Linked DNA regions of Homo sapiens. The protein of the gene in region 2 purifies or fractionates together with the protein of the main gene of each other region. This does not show direct contact. Each region holds a gene or a part of one and is shown on either strand. Other genes may lie near its edges.

What was found. The genes of interacting proteins can lie anywhere in the genome.
Region 1: the proteins of KCNJ6 (region 2) and HPF1 purify together in Homo sapiens (affinity purification with mass spectrometry; 2 studies listed by BioGRID and IntAct, with this or other methods). This does not show direct contact.
Region 3: the proteins of KCNJ6 (region 2) and MB21D2 purify together in Homo sapiens (affinity purification with mass spectrometry; 2 studies listed by BioGRID and IntAct, with this or other methods). This does not show direct contact.
Region 4: the proteins of KCNJ6 (region 2) and UFSP2 purify together in Homo sapiens (affinity purification with mass spectrometry; 2 studies listed by BioGRID and IntAct, with this or other methods). This does not show direct contact.

Annotation. Positions count from the first base shown.
Region 1 is NC_000004.12:169,747,945-169,751,444, forward strand, and holds part of HPF1 (histone PARylation factor 1), read right to left. Parts: intron 2,782-3,500; coding exon 2,592-2,781; intron 899-2,591; coding exon 800-898; intron 1-799. UniProt on the Homo sapiens protein: Cofactor for serine ADP-ribosylation that confers serine specificity on PARP1 and PARP2 and plays a key role in DNA damage response.
Region 2 is NC_000021.9:37,606,873-37,609,665, forward strand, and holds the end of KCNJ6 (G protein-activated inward rectifier potassium channel 2), read right to left. Parts: 3' UTR 501-2,793; downstream 1-500. UniProt on the Homo sapiens protein: Inward rectifier potassium channels are characterized by a greater tendency to allow potassium to flow into the cell rather than out of it.
Region 3 is NC_000003.12:192,907,857-192,911,356, forward strand, and holds part of MB21D2 (nucleotidyltransferase MB21D2), read right to left. Parts: intron 1-3,500. UniProt on the Homo sapiens protein: Probable nucleotidyltransferase that catalyzes the formation of cyclic dinucleotide second messenger in response to some unknown stimulus.
Region 4 is NC_000004.12:185,408,965-185,412,464, reverse strand, and holds part of UFSP2 (ufm1-specific protease 2), read left to right. Parts: intron 1-51; exon of another isoform or gene 52-3,500. UniProt on the Homo sapiens protein: Thiol-dependent isopeptidase that specifically cleaves UFM1, a ubiquitin-like modifier protein, from conjugated proteins, such as CD274/PD-L1, CYB5R3, DDRGK1, MRE11, RPL26/uL24, TRIP4 and RPL26/uL24.

The DNA of each region.
Region 1 (3,500 bases), on a different chromosome or scaffold from region 2:
ACCAAAGATAATGTGGTCCTAGAGCCACTCACTGTGGCAGCAGTTCTCGAATTCCCAGCTCCCTGATGGTGGCAGAGACAAAATCCACTGTGAGCCACACAACTGTCATTCCTGGAAGCTCAGCCTGCTCCCTCAACCCTTCCAAGGATATAATGACCACCTCTTTTTACTTTATTAAGCCTTTCTGTTTGAACCATACATAAGAAATAAACTCTTAACAGGTGTTTAAAATCAGATGTCTAACAAAACTGTTGATGTTGCCATGGAACACCTGAGGTCAAGTATTATTTTCGTTAAGTAAAATAGTTACATAAGAGGTGTATTTTTTTGGTGAAGAGGCACAAAATAACAGTATAGATAAGACTACCTGCAAAAGTCATGGAAATTATCTCTAGAAATCTACAATTATGGGCTTGTCTCAAATCCGCTTTGTTTTTTTTTTTGGAGATAGAGTCTCACTCTGTCACTCAGGCTGCAATGCAGTGGCGCAATCTCGGCTCACTGCAACCTCCGCCTCCTGTGTTCAAGCAATTCTCCTGACTCAGCCTCCTGAGTAGCTGGGATTACAGGTGTGTGCCACCATGCCTCCAGCTAATTTTTGTATTTTTAGTAGAGATGGGGTATACCCATGTTGTCCAGGCTGGTCTCGAACCCCTGACCTAAGCGATCTGCCCACCTCGGCCTCCCAAAGTGCTGGAATTACAGGTGTAAGCCACTGTGCCCAGCCCCTCAAACCCCCTTTGTAATGGACTAATGTAGTATAAACATTGTAAACAAATATAAATTAAAATATTCTTACTTGACTGCAGCAAATACATTATCTCCATTTGGAACAATTATACAATTTTTCTTTGCTTCATTTATACCAACATATACAGGAAATTCATCAGGAGAATCCCTGTGTAAGCAAAAGACATTAAAAATTTAGCTGCCCATAATTTATATTATCAGGCAAGTGGGATTTCAGGTCTACAGACAACAATTTACACCTATTTTTTTTCCTTTTTGGAGGCCTTTTTTTTTTTTTAATCATACCAGAATTTATCGATTACATCAAACAAAAATTTCTGTAATGGAAAAGGCAAGTTGCAGTCATAAAAGATGGCATTCACATTCATTTTAGAAAGCAACAACGTAGATGTAAAAAATTGTTTAAGTGAAAAATGTAATATTGCAGTCCCATTTTGCAAGCTGAAAAATTTTGTCAACACACATAAAATCTGCACATTTACATACTGCATGTTAAAAAATTCCATCACTAAAGTATTATAAATATTGCAAAGTTAGGCTTAAATTTATACTGTTGCTGGTGTATATGTAGTAGATATGGAATGAATGTTTTCAGTTTAGTAGGTAGCATCCTCAAACAACGGACAACAGTTGTGAAAATTACAAAGACATTTCAATAGCTCAAAATTATCCAAATTATAGGTACATCGTCCTATTATTACACTTTTTTCCCTTTCTCTGTCACAAATAGGATGATTACATTGTAGTGGTAGGAATACTGCATGGTCTACTTCAAATTATTCGATCTGCTAACCCCACACTAGTCATTTTTCATCAGCTCCTCAGTAAAATATCTTTTAAAAAGGAAAGCCAGGTCCCTCCCAAGGATCTAGGTTGATGCCTTTTTTATAAGGGCATTTTTAAAAAAATTCAAACAAATTTGCCAGTTTTAAGCTCCAAGTTTCTTAGGAATATCTATGATAAATCTTATATAATGGAACCTAAAACTAAGATTCTTAGGACCTAGTTGCTTTTATACTCAAATACAAAAAAAAAAAAAAAGGAAAAACAAGAAAAAGGATTGTAAAACATTAGAGATGAAAGGATCCTATTCACGTATATAACCAAACCTTTTATTTTAAAATTGAGGAAACAAATACCGAGAGGTTAAATTACTCAGCCAAGGACCTAGTAAGTTAGGACCTTGGCTACAGTATAATTCAATTCCTAGCCACATGTGCATTCTGCTGTACTACAACACTTCTTCCTGGGCACGTTCCTTCTATTACCTTACATTTAATCTTCACTTTAAAGGATAGCATTTCTACTGGTACAAGCGGACAAGTATTTTCCTCCTGGAGTTTCTCTATTTCTAAGTATTCTGCATGCATTCATTTAATTCTCATAATATTCCTATCAGGTATGTACAGTTATCCCTATTGTTACAAGACAGGAAACCGAGTCACAGAAAGTCACAGTCAGTAATGATACAGGGTCACACAGATAATAAACAAGAGGACCAGTGTGACTCCAGAGACCACTCTTAACTACCAGTTGCCACTCTGGCACACGGCTTATTAAGCACAGCTGCTCTAAATTATCTTTCTTGGGCCAAAAGAGCTCTTCTGAACCCAAAAGGGAAAAAAAGTTTACAAGGAAAGGAAAAACAAGTGAGATTAAACCTAAAGAGTTTACCCATCCTAGGGAAGGTTAAAACGGTAACAGCAAGAACAACAGATGGCTCATATATCCACCAACAGGGGAAAATATGCCTTTCACCTTGGGTGAGGCTAGTGAATAACTATTTATCCTCATTAGCAGGACAGCAGCTGTATTTTAGAGGCGAAGAAAAGATCCTTTACCTGAAATACCCCATGTGGTACTGAGTTTTATTATCTCCAATAATAATGGTCTGGAACTCAGGAGGATCATAGTAAAACCTCCAGTGAAGGTTAAAATTCAGGCCTGTTGATTTTTTCTTCGTTTTATGTTTTCCAGCAAGGATATCATAAGGACCAACTAATTGAAGTCCAAGGCTTGCAGAAAGTGAATCTATAAAGAAAATAAATTTAGACAATACTTTCTGGAGACAGGTAGGAAATAATGCTTTTATTTAGTAAACTATTTCTAAGCAATTGTCTTTAAAAAGTTTCTAAACTAAAAAAATCTTGAGTTATGTGTGAAGATGTCAGTTATAAACATTCAATGGAAAAGAAGTCAGAGTAACAGGAAAAGTGGTATTTACATTTAGGATTTCCTCTTAAATTTACCACTGAATTAGCCTAACATTTCAGACATTCCTGTTGTTTCTTATTTTGGCCAAAGCAAGACTGGTTTGTATTCCTATAGGCCCATTACCACACTGCAGTTAGCCTCAAATACTTGTAGTACACACAGGTTAAGGGAGAGAAAGATAGCAAAAATGTGTGGATTAAGAGTAGTAAAAAACAGGCCAGGTGTGGTCGCTCACACCTGTAATCCCAGCACTTTGGCAGGCTGAGGCGGGCTGATCACCTGAGGTCAGGAGGAGACAAGCCTGGCCAACATGGCAAAACCCCGTCTCTACTAAAAATACAAAAATTAGCCGGGTGTGGTGGCTCACGCCTGTAATCCCAGCTATTGGAGAGGCTGAGGAACAAGAATCACTTGAACCCTGGAGGTGGAGGTTGCAGTGAAACGAGATTGCGCCATTGCACTCCAGCCTGGGTGACAGGGTGAGGCTCTGTCTCAAAAAAAAAAAAAAAAAAAAGGTAAAAAACATTTCTATCCCC
Region 2 (2,793 bases):
TTTATCATGAATGATCAAACTCCTTTTATTAAGACTCTTAGAGCTGTGACAAGGGGCAGGATCAACTGCTCTGCAAGTCCCTAATTCCCTTTCGTTTTTTTCAAGTTCCATGAAGTGCAAGGTACAAACAGGTATCAAAGGAGTCCCACTTGGGTCAGTAGGTGTGGAAAGGAGCGGAGCTGACCCATTGCTGGGATCTGGCCATAGGCAGAACATTGTGGGAGAGATGGGGAAAGAGACAGGAGGGGGAGAGCGAGAAGGAGGAAAGGGAGCAAGAGAGTTAGGGAGAGAAAGAAAGAGATGGAGAGAGAGGAAGAGTGGGAGGGAAGAAGAGAGAAGATCACTCCAAACCCATGGTACTATCCTTGGGTTATGCCTGATATGCCTGACATCTTGAGTGGCCCTGGGGCAGGGTGTTGCGCTTTGAAACAATTCATGCTCTCACTTGTAGAAAAGGCCGACTTCTTTGGACACAGACACACATAAAAAAGAAACCAAGGCCATATCAAATTTTTCTTTTATTGTTCCAGTCAAAAAAAGAGGAACACCTCAATATGTAAACAGTTTCCCTAACACAGCGAGTTCTTAAAGATATATATATATATATATATTTTTTTTTTATTTTAAAAAAATTTGGCATTGTAGTGATTTCTCAATACATAATTTGTGCTTTCGCATTGAGCATGCTTTCGTCTCATTGTCCGTGCACAGACATACTTGGAGTTGAGTAAAGGGAGTTACAAAAGGACCAAAAAATGGGACAGGAGCCAAACCAGTACTTGAGCCCTACCTGGTGTTCCTTCCTAAAAAGCATGGTGGAAAAGTTGGCAAGATTGACCTCAGAAGCAAATCTTAGTGACTTTATTCCAAAGAAATCTTAGAAGCCTTGGTAGCAACTTTTGAAAGAAGCATTTCTTGTTTTCTTTCTGTTCATCCCTAAAGGATCATTGGTTTTGCTTGGAGAAAACTTTAGTTATTTTGTATGTTATATTTCTTAATATCCCTAAGTCCCTTCTAAAATAAACTCTTGTTTTGTGATTTTGCTGGACACATGATGGTTTACAACTACATGCTATTGAAATTCCACTAGTGATTTATTCTGCTTTTTGCTGAATCATTTCAAAGTGCTTGACAGTTGTGTAAAGACCTTTTGGTTTTGTCCAGTGAAAATTATTTTTTAATTCAATACTAAAGACTTCAGAGCCTTTAAGATGCAATGATGGGTTTATCAATAATACTGTTCATGCTATTCGTTTCTTAGTCCTTGTCCTTAGCCTGAAATTCTAAGTCTCTATAAATTAGCACCAGTTTTCCAAATGCATATTTTATCAAATCCTATGATCCTAGGCTGGTCTAGGTACCATCCCCCAATCTTACCTTGTGTGTTTCTGTTTTAAGACCCTCTCCCATGCTGGCCTTGCAAACTGAAATGCCTTTGCTTTTGGATCTCTCTCTCTCTTTTTAAAATAGAGATGGGGTCTTGCTGTGTTGCACAGGCTAATCTTGAATTCCTGGGCTCAAGCAATCCTCCCACCTTGGCCTCTCAAAGTGCTGGAATTACAGGCATGAACCATTGTGCTTGCCTGCCCTTGGATCTCTGTCTCCAAAACCTAAGCAGTCTTTGAGAAATGTCAGGGCAAATGTCCCTTTCTTCCTCATGAGGCCATTTCTTACTGCTTACGCAGAAACTGATCTACTTTCTTTACATTCCAGCAAATTTGTTGTGCCTGTCCCTCTTCGTTTAGGTATTTCTAAAACTAGACTCAGTTACTTCACGTGTGAAGTGGGAAGCAGTATTTTCTCACAGGGTTTTGTGTGGTTCGATGCACTTAGCGCAGTGTTGTTGCATGGTAAGGGCTGGCAGCCATGGGATTACAGGCTTGTTGAGGACAGTGGGGGATGTTACTTTTTCTCAGAGTCTTCATAGTAACTTGTCAAGGACATCACTCACTGTACTGCAAGTGTTCACTGAGTGCTCATGGCCAGCACTCAGGCAAGTGAATACACATTTGGAGTAATAAAATATGGGGCATCAGCTAACTTTCAGAATATTTTGAGTGGAGTTTTGTCCTTGTCTAGTTTTAGTTGCCTGTTGGGATCCCTGAGTATAAAAATACAAGTGTGTGCCTGCTCCCAGCATTGACGAGCTTCATGAACCTTGAAAATGGAACACTTTATTTCTCTGTAGGATGTGAGCATTTGATAAAGAACTCAAGTTCCTGAAAAAATTTCTGGAGACAAAGTTGAGGATCAAGTATCATCTGTGCTTCATTTCTTTTGGGAAGATGTGCGTTCTCTAGGTGTGGATATTGGAGTTGGCACACTGACATGCACCCTAATGACCCTCAGCTTGGGGACCCAATTCTGACACCTGCTGGGCTTTGCTTTCTTTGCTTAACTAGTTCTTGAAAATTCTGTGTGATGGTGAGAATAAGAAGTTCCAGGTACATAGAAACATGAATGTCCACAAACATGCAACCCCCAAACTAGATGCAGTCTTATCTTCAATCGCATAGATTCAAAATTAAAGAGACTATTGAAACCTTGGCACTGCTAGAGACTTTTGAACTAATAGCTTTCTGGAATAATTTTCTATCCTAAGAAATAGCTCACAGAACAACCCTATATTTTACTGGGCCATAGTAAACATTTTGGGCCTTAATATAATGCCATTTTATTAGGAAAGACAAATACAATGAATTATCTTATGATTAATAATGAAAAGTGGCCACTATTTTCCATTACTGGTATATAACTAAAATAAAGCAGTAGTGCTACGGTTAAAATAAATCA
Region 3 (3,500 bases), on a different chromosome or scaffold from region 2:
CTGAAAAGCCCTGAGTATGGGCATGCCAGAGGTCCGGAAGTACCCTCACATGCCTGTGAAGAAACACCGGGGTCCACAAGGAAGGGAACATCCCTATGAGTCATGAGTTGCAGTTTGCTGTTCCCAGTCAACAAGCTACAGCAATCACTATGGACATTTCTTATATTGCCCTAGGATAGGTCTTAAGGAATGTAGAAAAACTTGCCCTACATCCCTCTGCCACATAAGGAGATAAGATCAAAATTTTCTGGACTCCAGAAAATGATAAAGTATAACTCAATGGATTTTTAAAAATCATAAAGAGACAAGGTTAGAAAGTGCTAATTTCTCAGAGACTGCAATAAAAAGCTTCACTGGGAAGAGCTCTTTTAAAGAGTGACTCAAGTCACATCACACTTAGTGAGCACCTACTATGTGCATGACCCCCTGGGTGCTGCAAAGATAAATAAGCCAGGTATTCTTTAAAGCATGGGAAAGAACAGGCTAAGGGCCACAAAAGGGACCAGGTATTAGGAGGAAACACAGGAAAGGTAAATTTTCTTCTTTTTTTTTTTTTTTTTGAGACAGAGTCTCCCTCTGTCGCCCAGGCTGGAGTACAGTGACGCGATCTAGGCTCACTGCAAGCTCCGCCTCCTGGGTTCACGCCATTCTCCTGCCTCAGCCTCCCAAGTAGCTGAGACTACAGCAGCTGGGATGACAGACGCCCACCACCACGCCCAGCTAATGTTTCGTATTTTTTTTTTAGTAGAGACGAGGTTTCACCGTGTTGGCCAGGATGGTCTCGATCTCCTGACCTCGTGATCCGCCCTCCTCGGCCTCCCAAAGTGCTGGGATTACAGGCATGAGCCACCACGCCGGGCCAAATTTTCTTCTTCTCAAAGACATATAGGAAGGCTTCATGAGTCAAGTGGCATTTGAGCTGGGAGAAAAAAATAAAGCGGACATAAGGTGTCAGAAGGTCATCTGTAGAACCTGGGACATTTAATTGTTTCTGTGACATGGATCCTCTCGACAGACTGTAGAAGCCTATAGATCCCTGCAGAGAATAGCATATTTAAGTGAATATGATAACATCACACAGGATTTCCAAGAAAATCAGTATTAAAATACAAAATGCGGCCGGGCACGGTGGCTCACGCCTGTAATCCCAGCACTTTGGGAGGCCAAGGCAGGCAGATCACGAGGTCGGGAGATCGAGACCATCCTGGCCAACACAGTGAAACCCAGTCTCTACTAAAAATACAAAAAAATTAGCCAAGCATGGTGGCGGGCGCCTGTAGTCCCAGCTACTCGGGAGGCTGAGGCAGGAGAATGGTGTGAACCCGGGAGGCGGAGCTTGCAGTGAGCCGAGATCGCACCACTGCACTCCAGCCTGGGTGACAGAGCGAGACTCTGTCTCAAAAAAAAAAAATAAAAAATAAAAAAATAATAATAAATGCCTTTTTAAAGTAAATTTGTGATAGAGTACCCTATGTGATTATTAGTGCCTTAAATAATAAAATCTAGCAGCAAGTCTAATATCCACCATAATTTCAAAGCAGCAGTAAACATTTTTTGAGATATCTGCAACAACTGTAATGTGAAATAAAAATGCCTGGGATTTCTATTGGCAACAAAAACATACGAACCACTAATAACACTATGGTTTCCCATCTATATTTATAATGAAAGAAAATGCTATATTTAAGTTAGAGGTTAATACAAATAAAGATGTCCTTTTTTCCCCACTCAAGTTCACAGGTTCCATGCTGTTTCCATGGACCCAGGTTAGGGAACTCTGATGAAGAGCCTCGGCCAGACACGGTGGCTCACGCCTGTAATCCCAGCACTTTGGAAGGCCGAGGTGGGTGCATCACTCGAGGTCAGGAGTTCAAGACCAGCCTGGCCAACATGGCGAAACCCCATCTCTACTAAAAATACAAAAAATTAGCTAGGCATGGTGGCACGCACCTGTAATCCCAGCTACTCCAGAGGCTGAGGCAGGAGAATCACTGGAACCCGGGAAGCGGAGGTTGCAGTGAGCCAAGATTGAGATCGGCCACTGCTCTCCAGCCTGAGTGACAGAGCAAGACTCTGTCTCAAAAAAAAAAAAAAAAAAAAAAAAAAAGAAAGAGAGAGAGAGAGAGAAAAGAGCCTAAGAGCCTAAGCAAAGAAAGAAAGTGAGAAATTGGGGTGTATGTTACATGACAATGTAGAACATGCAGAGACAGGAGGCGGCATGGAAAGGTAGGTAAAATCCTCAGAAGATGGCAAATAAGGTAGGTAAAATCCTCGGAGGTCACCAATGTGAGAATTCATTACTCCCAATTATTAAATAATAGAATAGAGGTGGGGCGTGGTAGCTCATGCCTGTAATCCCAACACTTTGGGAGGCCAAGGTGGGAGAATCACTTGAGCCCAAGAGTTCAAGACCAGCCTGGGCAACAAGACCACCATCTCTACAAAAAAAAAAAAAAAAAAAAAATTTAAAAATTAACTAGGCATGGCTGTGCTCTCCTGTGGTCCCAGGTACTTGGGATGCTGAGGTAGGAGGATCGCTTGAGCCCAAGAGGTCAAGGCTACAGTGAGCCGTGATGGCATCATTGCACTCCAGCCTGGGCAACAGAGTGAGACCTGTCATTCATACATATATACATAAATAACAGAATGTGCTCTAAGTTCTAGAAATGCATCTTCTTTGGAATAAAAAGAGATGAATGAAAGAAGCTAGGAAAACATCATTCTACAAGTTTCAACTTATAGCTCCTCTTTAAAATGTAGAGGACAGCATATTGATAAATTTACTCCTAATAAAAGAGCATGGATCCCATACCATCCCTGTTATGTAAATGTACACATATGTCTGGGTATAAGCATATGTATAACACAGATGTTTAGAAGAAATGTGCATCAAAATATTAATGGTGATTCAAGTTTAGGAGTGATTTTACTTTTTCCTTTGCATTTTCTATCATTGGAAAACGGGCAGAATTAGGCCCAACATAGGTTAGGAGACTTAGGGTAAAACACATACCACATAGTACAAAACAGAGCTGGTACAAGAACTCAGAAATTCCCTTTTCTCTTACTATATAAAAACTTTCAGATTCAGAATTGAATGCACCTGAACACATGAAGTACATATAATGATTAAGCCCAACTTATATATTTAGAAACTGAGGCTTAAAGTCTGAGTGACTTGCCCAACGTCACACAGCAAATGTTAATAACTGGAGATTCAGAGGTAAAATCTGGGTCTCTTGGTCCTGAGTGCAGAATATTGTCCTTGTTAAAAGCCAGGGTTTTGTATTCATCCTGACCCAGGTTAAGTCCCACCTATGCCACTCACTTGCTGGTAAACTTGGATGAATTCCTATATTTTTCTAATTCTAGGGTTCACCACAGTTTTTTTTTTTTAACCTCAAAGTGTAATGGTGATGATTAAATGATACAGTAAAGTCCTATTAAAACCTGTGACATAGTAAACACCCTTGTCTCACTCACTATGCCTTTTTGTCTCT
Region 4 (3,500 bases), on a different chromosome or scaffold from region 2:
TTTGAGGAAATCTTAAGAATTAAAAAAATGCATATACGATACAGTACGTACCCTAGATGAGTTAGGGGCCCACTTGTGGTCTTGGTCATTAGAGTGTACTCAGGGCAGCAGATCATCTGCAAAAGCTGTGGGCCAACCAGCTTCCATAGAAAGTTCCTCACAAAAAGAATAGTTCCTTAGAAGAACCTGGACACACAGAAGGTATTGAATGAGTACTGATTGCTTTTTGACAATAAAATAGGTTCATTATATCTGTATTACAAGGTCGTAAGAAAAATATATACTTTACATATTTATCATGTAATATTTGATATGTACATATAACATATGCAAATTGTAAAGCACAGTGGGGAAATGAATACCAGGGAGCTCCTCCCTAATTTAAGAAGCAAAACTTTACCAGTCTGTGCTCTTTCCCTACCCACTCCTCTGCCTCCTCGACACAGTTCCAGGAGGAACTATTATGGGTTTTGTGTTCATCATTTCCTTCCTTTTTAAAAAGTAGTTTCAGCGTATATGTTACATATCAATCTCAGCAATGTCGCTTTTAGTATTGCATAGTTCTGAGTTTTATAAATATGGTATCATTCTGTACGTAGTCTCTGCAGCTTGCTTTTTCACTCAATATTACATATCAAACATCTCTGGTATTTTGTCTAACCATAGTTAATTATCTTTATGATTTTTTCCAAGTTTTTTTGCTGTTTAGACAATGAACATTCCTATACCTCTCGATACATATGTGCAACAGTTGTTAACATTTTGCTATATCTGCTTCATTTCTCCCTCTTTTTTCCCCCTCTGAACCATTTCAAGGAAAATTATAGATATATTATTTACCCTTAAATACTTTGGCACAAATCTCTCAACAATATAGATGTGCATTCATGAAATAAACTCGGTTTGGTTATGACTCATTATTTTTTATTCCCCTCTGGATTCCATTTGCTAATATTTTACGATTTTTGCATCTATGTTCGTGAATGATACTGGCTTATAATTTTCTTCTCTCATACTGTTCTTATTTTGTTTTTTTATTAGTGATATACTGGTTTACTAAATTAGTTAGGTTAATGTTCCTTTTTTAGTTTTTTAGAGAAGTTTATATAAGAGTGGTATGATCTTTCCTTGGTCATTTGGTAAAACTTGCCTGTAAAACAATTTTGGCGTAGCATTTTCTTTGTGAGAAGATTTTTAGTAACCAATTTAGTTTTGGTAACAGCTTTAGGACTTTTTGATTTTTATAAGTTATTTACCTAGGTTTTAATATATCTTGTAGTCATAATATTTTCTTTTTCATTCTTCATATCATTTTTATGCCTTGTGTCTTTTAAAAAAAAAAAAACTTTTGGCTTTGTTGGCCCCCTCTATTATAACTTCTGTATTTGATTTTATTAATTTTTGCTCTTTACTTTCTTTTTTTTTGCTCTTTCTTTGATTTATTGTCTTTCTTCTAACTTCTTAAGTTGGACATGTTAGCTTATTGCTAATATTTCTTTCTTTCTTTTTTTTTTTTTTTGAGATGGAGTCTTGCTCTGTTGCCCAGGCTGGAGTGCAGTGGCACAATCTTGGCTCACTGCAACCTCCGCCTCCTGGGTTCCAGCGATTATCCTCCCTCAGCCTCCCAAGTAGCTGGGATTACAGGAGGGTGCTACCACGCCTAGCTCATTTTTGTATTTTTTAGTAGAGATGGGGTTTCACCGTATTGGCCAGGCTGGTCTCAAACTCCTGACCTCGTGATCTGCCTGCCTCAGCCTCCCAAAGTGCTGGGATTACAGGCGTGAGCCACTGCGCCCGGCCTAATCTTTCTTTTTTTTGAGATGGAGTCTTGCTCGGTTGCCCAGGCTAGAGTGCAGTGGCATGATCTCAGCTCACTGCAACCTCTGCCTCCCTGGTTCAGGCAATTCTCCTGCCTCAGCCTCCCCAGTAGCTAGGATTACTGGCAATAGCCATACGCCTGGCTAATTTTTGTATTTTTAGTAGAGACAGGGTTTCATCATGCTGGCCAGGCTGGTCTCGAACTCCTGACTTTAGGTGATCTACCCACTCGGCCTCCCAAAGTGCTGGGATTACAGGCATGAGCCACCGTGCCTGGACAGCTTTCTTATTTTCTAATGTAAGCTTTTAAATTTCAAGCAAAGCACTGCTTTTAGTGTATCTTATAGGTTTAATTTGAAGGATTTTAGTTTTGTTCACTTCTAAGTATTTTTATATTTTTCTATTATGGTTTTTCTTTTGTCCATGTATTATTTAGAAGTGTTTGTTAATGTCCAAATATGTCAGAATTTATTTTTCTTTTTTGCTTTTTTTTTCTTCTTGTTTTAACTGGTTTCTGACTCTTGCCTCCTGGTCAGAAAGAATTCTAAGTGAAACTAACTCTGAAATTTATTGAAACTTGTATTTGTTCCCTAAAAAATAATAACATATTTGATGGCTTAAAACTACAAAAATGTATTGTCTCAGTTCTGGAGTTCTGAAAGTAGTATCACTGGGCTGACATCACAATGTCAGCAGGACCACCTTCCCTCCATAGGCTCTTGGGGAGAATCCATTCCTTAATCTGATGGCTGCCAGCATCCTTTGGTTTGTGGCCCCATCATTCCGATCTCTGCCTCCTCAGTCACATTACCTTCTCCTCCTATGCCCCTCTCTTTTAAGAATATATGTGATTGCATTTAGGGCACACTAGGATCCAGGATAACCTCCCCATCTTAAGATCCTTAATCACGTCTATGAATACCTTTGCTTTCCTTTTTTCTTTTACTTTTTGGCACAGAGGGTGCATTCACAAGTTCCAGGGATTAGGACATACATACCTTTTGGGAGCCACTTTTCAGCCTGTCACAATGGTCAAGTTATAAATTTTTCTATCTGTGCTTGGGCAGAATATATATTCTCTAATTGTTGGGTGAGGGTTGGTTCTATCTTGTCCCTATCTCCTCTCACTTAATTTTTTAAAAATATCATCAGTTTGGAGCCAGGCATGGTGGTGTGCAACTGTAATCCCAGCTACTCAGGAGGCTGAGGCAGGAGGATCACTTGAGCCTAGAAGTTCAAGACCAACCTGAGCAACATAGTGTGACCCAATCTCAAAAAAATAAAAACAAAAACCCAGTTCTTTAATAAAAAAAGACATATACATTCTTAGCACTATAAGTAAGAATTTATATGATATTAGTAATTTATTTATCTTTATTTTTTGACCCTTAACTTAGCGTCATCAAATAACATACTTGGGCTGTAATCATAGCAGGTTTATAAATTTAGACACATTCTTCCTGTGTCCCATGATATGGACCCTTCATTTGTTTGTTCATTCCTTTATTCCTTCCTTCATTCATTCAGCATTTATTCAGCAGCATTTATATTAACCGTGTGCCAGGCGTGTTGTAGAAGCTTGGGCCCAAAAATGGATAAGACACAGTGTATGTACTCACTGAGCTCACATATTAGTGTAAGTAGGCAGATATTTTTTAAATGATAAGTAATGTATCATTTAA